2 separate regions of the Homo sapiens genome follow, and region 1 is linked to region 2. Evidence: fine-mapped expression QTL. Tissue or cell type: whole blood. Region 2 holds a variant in brackets; the other region holds the start of a gene. All regions are shown on one strand. Distances are between the middles of the regions.

Region 1 (8,104 bases), 240 kb before region 2:
CTAGTCTATAAGCTCCATGAAGGAAGGGGCTGTGGCTGGGTTTGTCATAGTACCCCGTGCCTGGCTCATAGAAATGGCTCTACAACTATGTACTGAATTAATGTCATAAACGGTATCATAAATGTCCTTTAAGGACTGTCAGTGCTCCTAGAAAATTATAAAGAATCTTTAAAATGTTGTTTCAGACCTTCCTATCATATTGTATGAATACTTTGAAAGGACAAGCTTTGCAATAGGTGATCCAACATTTGAAATGTCCAGTAAATAGAAATAAGACTCCAGGGGAAAGATGAAGTTCACATTACTCAACCGCCTTCAACTATATGTGATTTCAAGTCATCTGAATTTCATTCTGTTTTTTTTAAAAAAAAAAGAGTAACAGAGTAATACAGCCTACAGTAAAAGTCGTCTGAATCACTCCAGGGCTTAAGATGATGACCCTTTGTGGGCCTTTGCTTGTGAATTAGACCTTACTTAAATAAAAGTATTTCTTTTCCAACATGATGTAAAACAACTGGCCTGCACATCTAAATGCTCCTGTTTTAACTGGGCCTGCAAGGGAGGCTGTGGGTCACAGTTTACTACTCCCAGTAGGCCCCATTATCAGCTACATTAGCTCAACAACATTTCAGTAAACTAAAGCAGCTATACCATTTGGACAAACAGTCAGCTTTTCCAGGATTTGCACTCATTGGTTGGTTAACTGAATAAAGTGTCAACATAACAAAATATTTGCCTCTTGCCATCTCAGGGAAGCAAAATCTCCCCTGGGCAGAATGTTCCATTTTCTGAGACTCTCCTGTAATAGGCAGGAAGCTGCAAACCCAGTGTTTCATTTAAATTAGCTAGATATTTCGTTCTGATGCTCTTCTGTTTAAAACTGTGGGAAAGGCAAAGTAACTAAAATAAGGAAGCACAAAGAATAGTGACTGCAAATAATTTGCTGGAAATAAAAAAATCACTAGTGATAGACCAAAGGCAAATTAAAATGTATGCTTCTCATTCAGATACCAAAAATACAAATCTGAACATCTCTTTCAAGAATACCAAAAACTGGTGATCACATGGCTTCCTCTATAATGAAGCTGAAATAGAAACTTATCAGAAAACATTTGACCCGTATCCCTTTTACCAATAGTGTGAAGTCATACCAGCTATTTAAGTCATTAGGCTGGGGCATTTTAACATGCAATTAACTTTTTTACAGGATCTAGAAATTCCCCAACCCCCAACCTCCAAATCAAATAGGTAGGCCACTAACTGCCATCCAGTGGTAGAGAGAATTTTGCAAGATGTTATACCTGATAATCTCAATGTAACAGAATCCTAACACAGCACAAGGAGTGACTGTTACTATGTAAATAGCTACATTACAAAACTAAAGCCAAAGCCACTAAGATAAGTAGAAAACAAATTAGAATCTCAGGAGGAGGTTCCAATGGCCCAATTCGAGAGTCTATTTTAAAAAGAGCAACAGAGTAACAATTACTGAAGGGCTGTTTCCTAAAATTACTCTCTGGTTGGTATTTCTCAATTTTCAAATGTCATGAGAAATAATGCTGGCTGTCACTTACTCTGCCTTAAAAGAAAGCATTACCAAAGAATACCACTGAAAAACAAAGGCATTCATACAAGGAAGTGAACACCCTAAGTGCATAAGTACGTTCTTAAGAGGGACACTAAAAAAGCAGAAGTCACATTAAGTTCCAAACACCAAGAAAAAAAAAACTGAACAGAAGTTCCTAACTTTATTAATATTATATACTAGCCCCCCCCAAAAAAAAAACTGCCCATGAGTTGAGATTTATCAATTTTGTATATAGAAATACTACATATTTAGGACTCCCTGCCTTTGGGTGGTGGAGGGACACTAGGAAAGGCAAGACAAAAGAGGAATTAAGCCTTTTTCTACCACATTAGAAATGTACAGTTTTTTTGGTGAAATTTAGGTTTGATGTAGGCGTTCTTGTTCTCTAAGTAAGTTTCCCATTTGCCGGAAATTTTAAGCAGCATTGATTTTTTTCAATTAGCTTCAGATATGCTACACTCTGGAATAGGGGTGTTAAACTCACGACATTGCAGAAAGGTTTGCACTTTTCCCTCATTTTCACTACTTGGCATTGTCTATCAAAGAGTAGCACATCCTGCAAAACCAACAAGAGGCATGGGCTAAGGAGGAAAAGCAAGCTCAAAATACCTAGCAAGCATGTCTTCATTTGCACAATTTAGCTTTTCACAACAAATAACAAGGGGACTGGTATTTTCTGTATCATAGGGCTCATGGATGACTTGTAAAAAAAATCAGATGATGATCACTTAGCATTAGGTAACATTTAAGCAATCTTGGGCGCCTAACGCTTGAAGGACTGATGATTTCAAATGGACAATAACTTTGGTTTAGATTCCAATATTTTACAGAATTGCATGGTTTCAAATTCACCATAAACAAGATGCCTCTTTTGAGCATCAATTCCAAGAGCTATTTAGCATCAAGGAATCACATTAGCTGTACAACTCATGATGGTGTTAATTAGGAAAGGAGCTAGAGAAAAAAAAATCCATCACTGAAGCCTTGATACGTTATTTAAAACTCACTATTAACCAGACAAACTATTTTTTCTGGGGAAGTGCTAATGATATGAACTAGAAAAAATTTTACTAGTACCTTAATAATAAATCATTTGAGAGAAAATTGCAACTTGGTATGCACCTCACCGAGCCCCTCGCCAATTCAATCGGGCCCTCCTTTGATAATTTAACAACAAATTCCTGTCTGGAATCACCCATTCAAGTGTCTTTTTAAGTGACTCCTGTTTCAATTTTTTAATAAAGTGCCACCAGTAGATCTACAAGTTGAGGAAAGCAGCTCAGGTGACACACTTGGCACCAAAAAGAATACTGAGTGGGTCAAAATCCTGCCCGGGGACAAAATAGAAGAGAAGCCGAAGAAGGTGACTAGACTTAATAGACTTCAAGAAGAGCAAGTACTGAAAACAGCAGTTTAACTACCTCGGACAATAAGCAACAAGCCTGCAGTCCCCAGGTAAGCGGCCCAGAGGGAGGTGAGAGGATGGAGTTGGAAAGGGGGACCAATGAGCCCGGGAAGAAGGAGCGACCAGGATGGAGCGCAAAGCAGTGACAGGCAAGGAGCCAACGGGGACTACACCAATGCAACAGGAAGAACCACGGGGATGGGACAGGGCAGGACAGGACAGGGCTGGGGGGAGGGGGCGACAGGGATGGAGCTGGTCCAGCCAAGTCATAACCAGACCCTGGCTGGGGCGCTCGCTGCGCGCAGGGCGCCGCGCCGGGCACTTTGGAGCGCTCTCTCCCGGGGTGCCCCCCACCGGCCCTCCGATGCCCCATTTCAGAGACTGGAACGACGAGGCCGGCCCCGCATCGCCCGCTCCGCTGTGTCACCCGCCCCGGGGCAGCGGAGGCTCAGCGCCCGACCCTCCAGGAAGCAGGGGGTAGCTGGCGGCCGCAGGGGGCGGCGGCTTGGGGCCGGCGCCGGCCGGGGCAGCTGGTACCTGGGCTCCGGCAGGACGATCCTCTTGCTGGCGCGGGCGGCCGGGGTCGCCTTGCTCTTCTCCATGGCCATCAGGTAACTGACATCGGCCAGCACAGCCTCCAGGTCCGCCATGTTGGCGAGCTTTGGCGGCGGCGGCGGCGGTTACTCCGGACCTGGACGGGACGCGCGCCCGCCGCCGCCGCCCGCCGCGCCCCGACCTGGGGGGGCCGCCCCGGGGCAGCCCCCCCCTCCGCGCGCCCCCGCCCCGCGCGCGCGCCGCGCGCCCCACTAGCGCTCTGCGCGCGCCGCAGGCTGTAGCCGGCCGGGGTCGCAGCACGCCTCCCCGCTCCGCCCCCTCGCGCGCCGCCCGGCGCCCCGCGCACGCGCGCCGCCCCCTGCTCCTTCAGCGAGGGTCTGCGGGGAGCGCGCGTCCAACGGTCAGCGCCCCTCAGTGCACAGTCCCAGCGGCCTCGCTGGGCCGGCGCCTCCCGACCAAGTCTCTACGGTCGCCCTCCCCTCGGGGTGGCCACGAGGGACTCCTCCTCCTCTTCCTCCTCCCCTCCCTCCCCCTCGGTCTCCGCCTCCTCCTTCTCCTCCTCCTTCACTGCCCCGACCTCCCGCCCCAGGTTCCACGCGCTCTGATGCCCGCCCCGCTCACCCAGAGAAGCCCTGGGCCAGACGTCCACAACCCAAGGGGTTATGGGGAGGCCTCTGCTCCCTGGACACAGTAGTTCTCAAACTGGACAGTGTCAATCAGCATCCTCCGGGAGGTCTGGGGTGGCCCCGGAAATACATGTGTCCCACCTATCCCAGCAGGTAATGATGAAACTCCTGCTCTGGTCCGGGCTACCGGTGAACAGCGCCCAGCGGGCCGGGCCCCCAACCTCGCTCCTGAGCCTGAACATCCCCCCAACCCCACCGTGAGAATTCAGCGAAGAGTAAAAGCTGGAAAAAGTTGCGTGTCTTAGGCTAAGCAGAACAAAGTGGGGTGACGGCTCCCCGGCTAGGAACAGAGATGCCCTTAGGGAGCCCTCTGATGGAAGAGCTCTCCGCTTAAGAAGGTCACCACTCCCTTACACTCAGGTGAGAGGTTTTAGTTTGGGTGTTGAAATGGTGTTGAGAAATAGAAGGAGAGAGAGTATTCCTGTCGTTAGGGTTTTACGGTCAATACAAGAGACAATTAGGGAGCATCTGCTGCGAGCACACTCGCACCACGAGGGTGATTTAGGGAAGTGGAAAAGCGAGATACAGCCCAAACACCGAAGCTGGGGGGAATTTCCAGCTTCCTGATCTTCGGTCTCGGTGTCTTTCATCATCACTCCACCCCGATGCCTGGGGTTTTCAGTTGCTTATTTTTCTACAGTGTGCACACAAGTCCGCATTCAGGATCCATGTGACACTCAGGCTGGAGTGGTGGTAAGGGACACGCAGGCAGTCTTAGGAAGACCTAAGCTGGAAATTAATGTTTTAAAATCCCTTTCATTCACCTGAATTGGTCACGTATTTCCATGAGCCTAGACGTTGCTAGAATTTGAGTGAACGTTCTGTCCATAACTTACAGGGTTAACGGGACCCACCAGATACAGTTAAGGTCAAATTTCAGATATTTCATGTAATGTCATTGCAGAAGCAGCCTGATTCTGTCATCAAATAGCCTGTTTCCCTCTTTTGTTTTCTCTCCCACGCCACAGCCCCCCTCAATCTGATTCCCTGCTATGCCTGCCATCACCACTGGCCAGTTTTACCACATGCTTCTCAAGACCCAAGGCACAATAGGCATAAAGTTGTCCTGAAAAGGACAAGAGGAGTGTCAGAAGTAGGAATGGCAGTTGAAGGAGCTTCGTCTGCCAGCAGAAAGCTGAAATGACAGGCAAGCACAAAATATATTAAGGAGACAAAGCTATGCATGAGCGAAATATCAAACTTTCATCTTCTACCCACTTTTTTTTTTTTTTTTTGCTTAAAAACAGGAAGACAGAATGTCTTGTCAAGGGTCACCCCAGGAGGAGGAGTAAATTCCCCAAAAAGCGGAACATATTTTTATGATTTAATTAATACAATTTCTCTCAATGTGTCTGTTTATCATTTGAGCATCCACATGATCAGACCTGACATCTGCCTACATTTTCTTGGTCGTCTTTGACTTCAGTTAAGAACCTTTTGCTCTTTGTTTTCCCCCAGCAGCACAGTATATTAAGTTTGGAACAAGACACACCTGAAATCAAATCCCTGCTCTGTGCTGGGTGATCTTAGAGGCAGTCTTTTACCTCTTTCTACTTTATTGTTCTCATAGGAAAAGTGGAAATGAGGCCTTTTACCCCAGGGTTGTTGAGAAGACAGAGGAGAAAAAGCACATAAAAATGCACCTTGTCGGGCGTGGGGCTCACACCTGTAATCCCAGCACTTTGGGAGGCTGAGGCAGGTGTATCGCTTGAGGCCAGGAGTTCAAGACCAGCCTGGCCAACAGGAAAAATACATTAAAAATAATGTCTCTATTAAAAATACAAAAATTAGCCAGGTATGGTGGTGCACGCCTGTAATCCCAGCTACTCAGGAGGCTGAGGCAGAAGAATCGCTTGAACCCAGGAAGCGAAAGCTGCAGTGAGTCGAGATCGCAGCACTGGGCAGGCACAGTGGCTCACACCTGTAATCCCAGTACTTTGGGAGGCTGAGGTGGGTGGATCACAAGGTCAGGAGATGGAGACCATCCTGGCTAACACGATGAAACTGTATCTCTACTAAAAATACAAAAACAAAATAAGCTGGGCGTGGTGGCGGGCGCCTGTAGTCCCAGCTACCTGGGAGGCTGAGGCAGGAGAATGGCAGGAACCCGGGAGGCAGAGCTTGCCGTCAGCCAAGATTGCACTGCTGCACTCCAGCCTGGGCAAGAGAGCAAGACCCTGTCTCAAAAAAAAAAAAAAAAAAAAAAAAAGCATTTTGCCTGGCACCCAGTAGATCCTCAATAAAGGTCATGGCACTTCCTCTATTTATTTTGCTTCATTTTACCCTGGCATGCTAGAGAAGATACTGAAACTAGTTGTTCACAGTCATTACACTTGAAGCAGGAAGACCCCTTACCAAAAATAACATCTCCCTAGGGCATTTCTAGGAACCAAAATGGCAAAAACATTTGCATCTATAAACATGAGCAATTACTCTTTTGGCAGAAAGACCAAGGAGTCCAAAATTTGGTCCTCTAACTGAGGCCCCTACACCATTTGAGTCAGCTGACTCAATTACCCAGGGGTATTTTTTTCTGGTGTTCATAGTGTATGAATTTCTGTTCCCTGGCTGTCTCTTTGGTTGTCTCACTTTCTCCACCCCCTCTTCTTTCCCTTTTTCTTGACTCTCTTGATACTGAACAGCTTTTTGTGTTCACTGCAAACAAAAGGGGTTAATGACAGTGATGATGAAGTTGTCATAACTGACCTGCTGGATCCTGTTACTAAACACCATCCCCAGCCTGTAATCATCACAAAGAACAGAAAAAACAAATAGCAACCCATTTGTACTTAGCTAATAATGCTCCCTTGCAAATAATTATGTCTCCCACCCCCAGAGGATTTAAATGACTTGGGGCTCACGCTGCTTGTGATAATAGACAAAACTCCAGCGTTCCCACAAGATTAATAATGTTCCCTTTTCTTCTTTTCTATGCCTTTCCATCGTTACAGGAGATGTTGCTGAGATGGGTGCATTAAAGTTTAGGCTTTCCAGAGTTTATATTGCTAACAACTTGAAAGGAAAAAAGCTAACTAGAGAACTGACTGGTCTTATTTGTTTTAGATTCTGGGCTTTACTAAGACTTCCTACTCTCAGAATCTCTGGACTATAAACGCTGGGTGGGGTGGGAGCTGGGAATGTTATTCTGGAAAATTAATCACAAATGAAAAGAAAATCAACTCTAAGACTCCAGTTAGAAGATTTTTGAAAATGGCAGAACATGACTGGCCTTCATTCAAGTCAGAATATTTAAAGCAATCCTTGCTAAGAAGAACTTGATTTTGTATAAGCAGTCCCTTAAATACAGTTGCTTCTCAAGAAAACCACACACAATTGATGTTTGAATGGCTTTATTTACAAACATCTCACTCCGTAAGCCTCTGCAGGTATTTCTAGCCTCCCAGGGGCCACTGTCCCGTTTCACCTGTAATTTGGATCACAATTCTGTTTGTTGTCACACACATCATATGAACTGCTTTTCATGCTGCTTTTATCCACAAAGCTTTACAAGCTTTAATGGCAGCTCTATGTATGACAACTTTATAAAGATCTGCCAAAAGGTATGATGCCAAGCTTTGCTTTTATTAAACTATTAGCTATTAGCACTGAAACGATGTTCAGTAGAGAAGTACTCTCCTTTCAATATGTGAGTGGAAACACATTTCTCTATGGGGACTGCTGGTCAGGGACTCACTCTAAAGAAAAGCCACAGTGTTGTGGTTCAGAGCATGGGCTCAAAAGACAAATGGATAAGAAGCCCAAGACCAGTCCTTCTGAGCTGTGTGACCTTAGACAAGTTGTCTAATCTCTCTGTGTCTCAGCTCTGCCTCAGTGTTGTTAATGGGATTGCCGTGAGAGCAATGCTGTAAC
Region 2 (8,104 bases):
TCTCTTTGGTGTGGAAGGAAAGCAAAGGAGAGGAGGAGAAATGTGAAATATTAGCGTTAAGAACTGATTAATACAGAAAGGCACTGTATGGTTCTGTGAGAGCATCTCCTCACACCTCCTGCCCATTTGAAGGTCCAGGCCAATCCCCTCATTTTTCAAAATGTTACAAGACCATTTAATTCTGTGGATTTACATATCCTGCTACTACATTTATCACCTATCGTGTTTTACTTTTTAAATTATGGTGAAGCATACATATTATTTTAATTATTTAGTGTACATTTCAGTGAGATTGAATTCAGTGAACTACATTCATGACGCGGTGTCAATAATGAGAAAAATCTAAATTCATACTCTAAGCTTAAAAAACAATTCTTGCAGAAATCAATGGAATAGAAAACAGAAAATCATCCGAGAAAATCAATAAAACAAAAAGCCAGTTCTTTGAGATCAGTACCATTGATAAACCTCTACCTTGGCTAACCACAAAGGAAAGAAAGATGTTACAATGTACTAATAGCATCAATTGAAGAGCAGTTAAATCAAAAAATAATAAAGGAATATTCTGAACACATCTATGCCCACAATTTGATACATAGATGAAATGAGCTCATTCCTTTTTATCGATTTTAGAAGACCAAAAGTCTTCTGGGGAAAAATAGATCATCTGAATAGGCCTATATTTATTTTAGAAATTGAAGCAATGATTAATAATCTTTCAAAAGAAGGAAAAACCAAAAACACTACATTCATATGATTTCACTGGTTAAAAAAAAAAAAAAAAAATTCTACCAAAATTCTTTTTTGTTGTTGTTTTTTGCGACGCAGTTTTGCTCTGTCACCAAGCTGGAGTGCAGTGGCGCGAACTCGGCTCACTGCAACATCTGACTCCCTGGTTCAAGCGATTCTCCTGCCTCAGCCTCTCAAGTAGCTGGGATTACAGGCACAGGCCACCACGCCCAGCTGATTTTTGTATTTTTAGTGGAGGCGGGGTCTCGCCATGTTGGCCAGGATGGTCTTGATCTCCTGACCTCGTGATCACCCGCCTCAGCTTCCCAAAGTGCTGGGATTACAGGCGTGAGCCACCGTGCCCAGCCCCAAAATTCTTACAAAGAAAAACCTGGTCTTACCATACAAGCAAGTAATTATAATCCTAAGTATTTCCTTAGTTATATTTTGGAAACATAATTTTTAAACAAGACACAGCAAGGTTTTTAATAGCTATATTCATAATTGCCCAAAGTGAAAGCAAATATCTAAACATTTGAGGTGTCCTTTACTATTAAAAGTGAACCAAGCCTGGGCAACATGATGAAACCCCATCTATACAAAAAAAAAAAAATAGAAAAATTAGCTTGGCATGATGCCTTAGTGCCAGTTACTTGGGAGCCTGAGGTGGGGGGAACACCTGAACCTGAGGAGGTCAAGGTTGCAGTGAGCTGTCATTGCACCAATGCATTCCTGGGTGACAAAATGAGGCCTTGTCTCAAAAAATAATAATTTTGAATTTTGAATTTAAGAAATCTCCAGCCGGGCGCAGTGGCTCACGCCTGTAATCCCAACACTTTGGAAGGCCGAGGCAGGTGGATCATGAGGTCAGGAGATAGAGACCATCCTGGCTAACACGGTGAAACCCACCTGTACTAAAAATACAAAAAATTAGCCAGGTGTGGTGGCACGTGCCTGTAGTCCCAGCTACTCAGGAGGCTGAGGCAGAAGAATTGCTTGAACCCGGGAGGCAGAAGTGGCAGTGAGCTGAGATCATGCCTCTGCCCTCCAGCCTGGACAACAGAGTGAGACTCCATCTCAAAAAAAAAAAAACAAAAAATCCAAATATTTGGGCCTGAATTATCCCAATTATTAGCTACTTTAAGGGTTGGGAGAAAAGTAACAATCTGACCCTTAGCTGGTTCCTTCATTTAGGTACCAAACCGGCCGGATAGGTGAGGCTAGAGAATGGGATGGGGACTCCAAAATTGGGGTATTTGAATTTTCATTGAGAAAAGGGAGAGACTAGATCAAAAAAGCCTCAATGTCTAAGGCAAGAGGCAGAGCCAGCCTTTGTCCCCCATGCCCAGACCTGGGAAAGCTGGCTATGGACAGGAGGGAGCTGGAAGCTGAGGATGTCTCTGGGGATGAGGGTAAGGGAAGGGGGTGGGGGTGGCCAGAGGTGTGCCAGAGGGTAAACGGCACCCGTGGCTTTTTTACCTGTGGGCATCTTTTGGTTGCTGATGTGCTGCAGGTCTTGGCCCTCCGTGGCTCCCACATCCAGCTTGCCAGGCTCTACGGTAGTGGATTCTGATGTTGCAGCAGCCACGGCCTCATAAATATCAGATTCATAACTGGATGCTGCCTTCCCCCTGGGCCAGCCACAGTCGGAGCTGACTTTGGGGCACACACGACAGGTCAGTATATTCCCCGTGGGGCACCTACACTCCTCTCCACTCCTGCCTGAGCCTTCGATGAAATTGTAACTGTGCTGCCCTAGCAGCCACACTACTGAGGGTGGCCCTGCACTTGTAGAAGCAGCCTGACCCCAGGCAGATCTGGGGCCTCAGCCCGTAGTCTGCCGCCACCTCCCAAACTGGATGGTCTATGAGGTCGGGGACCTACTGTTTTACCTCAAAAAGAAACACGACAAGCGCCAAGAGGCACAAAAACTGCCGTCAAAGAGCACAGTCGGAGCTCCTCCTCCCTCCACTGCCAGCTACCGACTGAGGGCTGCTGGCCTGGCTAATGCCTATAACCCACAAAGCTTCCTATGTCACCTGGTTACCAGGAAACAGGTCAGGCTAGTGACTCACCATGTCCAGCCCCACAGCCCCCCCAGTGCCTCACAATGCCCATCCCAGCTGCTGCCCACCTTGTGGCACCCCTGCCCCTCCATGGGGACTGCACTACTCAGGCTTTTATTCACCCTGTGCGGCCTGAGCTTTCCAGAACTAAGCAAAGTGCAGGGGGGGATTGTTATTGGAAGTCACCCTTGGCAAGAAACTCAATAGAAAACCCTGGCACGGCCGGGCACGGTGGCTCACGCCTGTAATCCTAGCACTTTGGGAGGCTGATGGGGGAGGATCACCCGAGATCAGGAGTTCGAGACCAGCCTGGCTAACATGGTGAAACCCCATCTCTACCAAAAATACAAAACATTAGCTCGGCGTGGTGGCAGGCACCTGTCATCCTAGCTACTCTGGAAGCTGAGGCAGGAGAGT[C/T]GCTTGAATCCAGGAGGTGGAGGTTGCACAGTGAGCTGAGATCGCGCCATTGCACTCCAGCCTGGGTGACAGGGTTGAAACTCTCTCAAAAAAAATAAAATAAAATAAAATAAAATAAAGAAAACCCCAGTTACTAAAGTCAGTTCCACCAGCATTTCTGTTTTTGAGTCTGACAGCTTTCATTTGCTCACCAAATGTAGTTATACACAAGTTTTTGACTGCTTTTGTAACTAAATGCTTCTCTCCTGTCTTACAAGTGTTAGTTCTTGTCTGCAACTTGACCATAGCTACCCCCAGGGCCCTGGTCCCACTCTCAATAGAGAGTTATGGCTGTGTATCCTCAGTGAAACCCTGGGACACATCACACTTCCCTCCTCGTCTATAAAATAGGGACTGAACACATCCTTCCCAGTTCTGTAATGCTAGGACGTACCAACTCCCTTTTCTCGCTGTTTCTTCTTTCCATGGCAGGGGTATTCAGATATTTCTTTTATTTACTTTTTATTTATTTTTTGAGATGGGAGTGTCACTCTGTTGACCAGGCTGGGGTGCAGTGGCACGACCTCGGCTCACTGCAGCCTCCACCTCCCAGGTTCAAGTGATTCTCCAGCCTCAGCCTCCCGAGTAGCTGGGACTACAGGCATGCACCACCGCATCTGGCTAATTTTTGTATTTTTAGTAGAGATGAGAGTTTCACCATGTTGGTCAGGCTGGTCTTGAACTCCTGACCTCAGGTGATCCACCTGACTCAGCCTCCCAAAGCGCTGGGATTACAGGTGTGAGCCACCACGGCCAGCCTCAGGTATTTCTTTTACTAATAATGCATAAAACATTATTTTCTTATACAAAATTAAGAACCACACAGTGGGGTACCATTGTCCTCATTTGATAAAGATGAATAGTCAACATCTGGCAAGCATTATGTGTCTGACACTGTTCCAACTGTGGCCTACTAATTTAACCTTCAGAAACAGTCGCATTTTATAGATTTTGGAGAATAAATCTAGATGGAAAAGTCAAGTAACTTCCCCAAAGTCCCACGACTGCTCAAGGTGGGGCCAGATTTTAATCCTGAGGAGTCTTGATCCCCACAAGATGACTGTGGTTATCAGAAAGTAAAGGTAGAAGTCAAGCATGGAGGGGAAGTGACATTGTAGATTAGTTTATTTTAAGAAAAATGGCTGGGCGCGGTGGCTCACAGCTGTAATCCTAGCACTTTGGGAGGCCCAGGTGGGTGGATCACGTGAGGTCAGGAGTTTGAGACCAGCTGGGGCAACATGGCAAAACCCCATCTCTACTAAAAATACAAAAAATAGCTGGGCGTGGTGGCACATGCCTGTAATCCCAGCTACTCAGAAGGCTGAGGCAGGAGAATCACTTGAACCCAGGAGGCAGAGGTTGCAGTGAGCTGAGATTGTGCCACTGCACTCCAGCCTGGGCAACAGAGCGAGACTCCATCTCAAAAAACAACAAAAAAATGTTTTTTATGTGGATTTTTAAATTCCTCCCTTTCATTCAACATTAAATCCCTTCTAAGGGTGAGGCACTTCATGGTCCTGAAACAGTCCCAACACTCAGTGAGTTCAGGCAGATGAGCAAACCAAGGCTTAGAGAGTTCAGTTGTGTAAGACTACACTGCTGGGCAGTGAATGAACCTGGAATACAAAGACTCATTCACTGTCCAGCAGTAGAGTTTAAGTAGAGTTTAAATTTTATTCTAGCAACATGAGAGTCACGGAACCACATAGAGATGAGGAGTCTCTATCAGACGTGTTTGCAGTGAGGTCTCTCTGCACAACAGAGAAGGACTCATGGAAGCAATGGGACCAATTAAGAGACATTATGTTGGGAGGCTGAGGTGGGTGGAACATTTGAGGTCAGGAGTTCGAGACCAGCCTGGCCAACATGGTGAAACCCCATGTCTACTAAAAATACAAAAATTAGCCTGGCATGGTGGCGGGCACCTGTATGTAGTCCCATCTACTCGAGGGGCTGAGGCAGGAGAATCACTTGAACCCGAGAGGTGGAGGTTGCAGTGAGCCAAGATCACACCATTGAACTCCAGCCTAGGCGACAGAGAGAGATTCTGTCTCAAAAAAAAGAGAGAGAGACACTATGTTCATCTGGGAGAACAGATAAGGCCAAAGGCAGAGGAAATGACTGAAGTGGACGGAAAAGTTTTGTGTTCATTTGGGAGAGAGAACAGGTAGTGCTAGAGGATTAGATGTGGAAGAACAGGGGAAGGAAAAGGAAAAACAGGCTGCTAAGGCTCTAGTTTGAAGGACTGGGTAAATATCAGTGACTTTCTCCTACACAGACAATGTAGGAAGAGGAATAGGTATGGGGAATAAGATAGTTTTGGGCCAGACACGGTGACTCACGCCTGTAATCCCAGCACTTTGGGAGGCCGAGCTGGGTGGATCATGAGGTCAGGAGTTCGAGACCAGCCTGGCCAACATGGTGAAACCCAGTCTCTACTAAAAATACAAAAATTAGCCAGGCACAATGGCAGGTACCTGTAATACCAGCTACTCGGGAGGCTGAGGCAGGAGAATCCCTTGAACCTGGGAGGCGGAGCTTGCAATGAGCCGAGATCATGCCACTGCACTCCAGCCTGGGTGACAGAGTGAGACTCCGTCTCAAAAAAAAAAAAAAAAAAAAAAGATAGTTCTGGACTCTTAAGTATCGCACTGAAATGGAGCTCTCTGCTTGAAAGTTGGATAGAAACCTCTGTAGGCTAAGTCCATTCTATGACATCACAACTCATGTTTTAAAAAATAACACACACGTTAAGTCAAACCATTAACGAAATTTCCTAACATTTACATACAAAGAATATGACAATTTTTTAGTTATTACTTTCTTAGAGCAACTCTGAATTTATGATCATGGTGAATGAGGTGTCATGTAAAATAAAGCTGTTATATAAAAACAACATTTAAATTTTATTCTCATCAGAGCATATAGAAAACAATTGAAGCCATGGGTATGGCAGGGATTGCTTTAAAAAGCTGTGTCTAATAAGGGGAGTTGGAAAGAAAAGAGATGTGGGGGCCAGGCACGGTGGCTCATGCCTGTAATCCCAAAACTTTGGGAGGCCTAGGCAGGCGGATCACCTGAGGTCAGGAGGAGTTCAAGACCAGCCTGGCCAACATGACAAAACCCCGTCTCTACTAAAAATACAAAAATTAGCGGGCATGTTGGTGGGCACTTGTAATCCCAGCTATTCGGGAGGCTGAGGCAGGAGAACTGCTTGAACCCAGGGGATGGATGTTGCAGTGAGCCGAGATGGTGCCACTGCACTCCAGCCTGGGTGACAGAGCAAGAATCTGTCTAGCAAAAAAAAAAGAAAAAAGAAAGGAGACTTGGGGAACAGGGAGATTTAAGTGGCATTAAGTAAAGCCTGCAAATGTAAGCAGTGAGTGTCAAGGTACCTCACTGTTCATCAGAAATGGCTGATCGAGTGAGTCTCATCACAATGGAGCTGGTGTCTGCTTCTGATTTCTGTAATGGCCACACCTAGCACAGTACCTGGTCAATAGGGACTCAATACCTGATACCCCAATGAACAGAGTAAAATTCTGCCAGTTCAAAAACACATCCATACCCACCAACTTCTCTCGTGGAGTTTTACTTCTTTCACTTACTGTAATGTTTTGAAGTTCATCCCTCCTGTGACCTGTATCCATAGTTTCTTTTCCTTGTGTAACTGAGCAGTACTCCACTGTATGCACAGACCATATGGGTCTATCCATTCTCTAGCTGACGGACACTTGGGTTGTTTCCAGTTGCTGCCTATAGTGAATGAGGCTGCTGAGAACATTTATGTACACGTCTTTTTGGAACACATGCTTTCATTTCTTCTAGACAAATTCTTAGGGCTGGAATTGCTAGGTCAAATGGCTAGTTCATGCTTAACTTCTTTTTCTTGCCTTTCTTATTAATAGAAAAGAATATACTGATACATGATATTGGAAATATCTTTTTTTTTTTTTGAGGTGGAGTATTGCTTTGTCATCTAGGCTGGAGTGCAGTGGCGCAATCTCGGCTCACTGCAAGCTCTGGCTGCTGGGTTCACACCATTCTCCTGCCTCAGCCTCCCAAGTAGCTGGAACTACAGGTGCCCGCCACCATGCTCAGATAATTTTTTTGTATTTTTAGTAGAGACGGGGTTTCACCATGTTAACCAGGATGGTCTCGATCTCCTGACCTCATGATCCGCCCGCCTCGGCCTCCTAAAGTGCTGGGATTACAAGTGTGAGCCACCAGACTCGGCCTATATTGGACATTTCTGAGTTACATGTGCTGTTTGGTTCTGTGCATCCACCGTGTCATCATCAAGTCAGGATATTTGGGGTATGGCTTCAGTATTTATCATTTCTATGTGTTGAGTATATTTCAGTTCTCTCTTGTGGCTATTTTGAAATATACAATACATTATTGCTAACCATAGTCACCCTACTCTGCTATCCAACATTAGAACACATTCCTTGCATCTAACTGTAAGTGTGTATTCATTGACCAACCTCTCTGCATTCCCTTCTTATACCCAGAGAAGGAGAGAGGAAGGAAGGAAAGGAGCTGTGGTTGGGCTGAATTAGGGCCCAGGGACGGCTGTGTCCCAGTCCCGGGACCTGTCCATGTGCTGTGTTGTGTGGCCTCAGGGACTTTACAGATGTGATGATGTCAAGGGGCCTGAGGTGGAAGATGATCCTGGGTTATGTGGGTGGGTCCAAGGTGGGGTCTTTATAAGGGAAAGGAGGAGGCAGGAGGGTCAGAGTGACAGCAGGTGTGGGGCTGGAGGACAAGAAAGGGAGAGAAGGAGGGAGGGTGAGAGAAGGCGGTGGGGAGAGAGAGAGAGAGAGAGAGAGAAGAGTGGGAGAGATTTGAAG

Evidence for each region. PIP is the estimated chance that this variant, and not a neighbour inherited with it, causes the effect.
Region 1: it holds the start of GRK3, and the variant in region 2 is fine-mapped to the expression of GRK3 in whole blood (INTERVAL, PIP 0.98).

Annotation. Positions count from the first base shown.
Region 1 is chr22:25,560,580-25,568,683 of GRCh38, reverse strand. It overlaps GRK3 (G protein-coupled receptor kinase 3), which reads right to left and starts at 4,009. Exons shown (of 21, transcript NM_005160.4): 1 at 3,531-4,009. The coding sequence starts at 3,643. GRK3-AS1 (GRK3 antisense RNA 1) reads left to right here and starts at 3,268. Exons shown (of 4, transcript NR_183564.1): 1 at 3,268-3,604; 2 at 4,325-4,594; 3 at 5,203-5,381; 4 at 7,186-7,796. RefSeq lists enhancers at 1,335-1,514, 2,797-3,312 and silencers at 3,424-3,673, 3,984-4,083.
Region 2 is chr22:25,321,843-25,329,946 of GRCh38, reverse strand. No RefSeq gene overlaps it. Among named protein-coding and RNA genes, the nearest start is that of CRYBB2, 110 kb to the right of the region's middle. The variant C/T (reference allele first, on the strand shown) is at 3,213.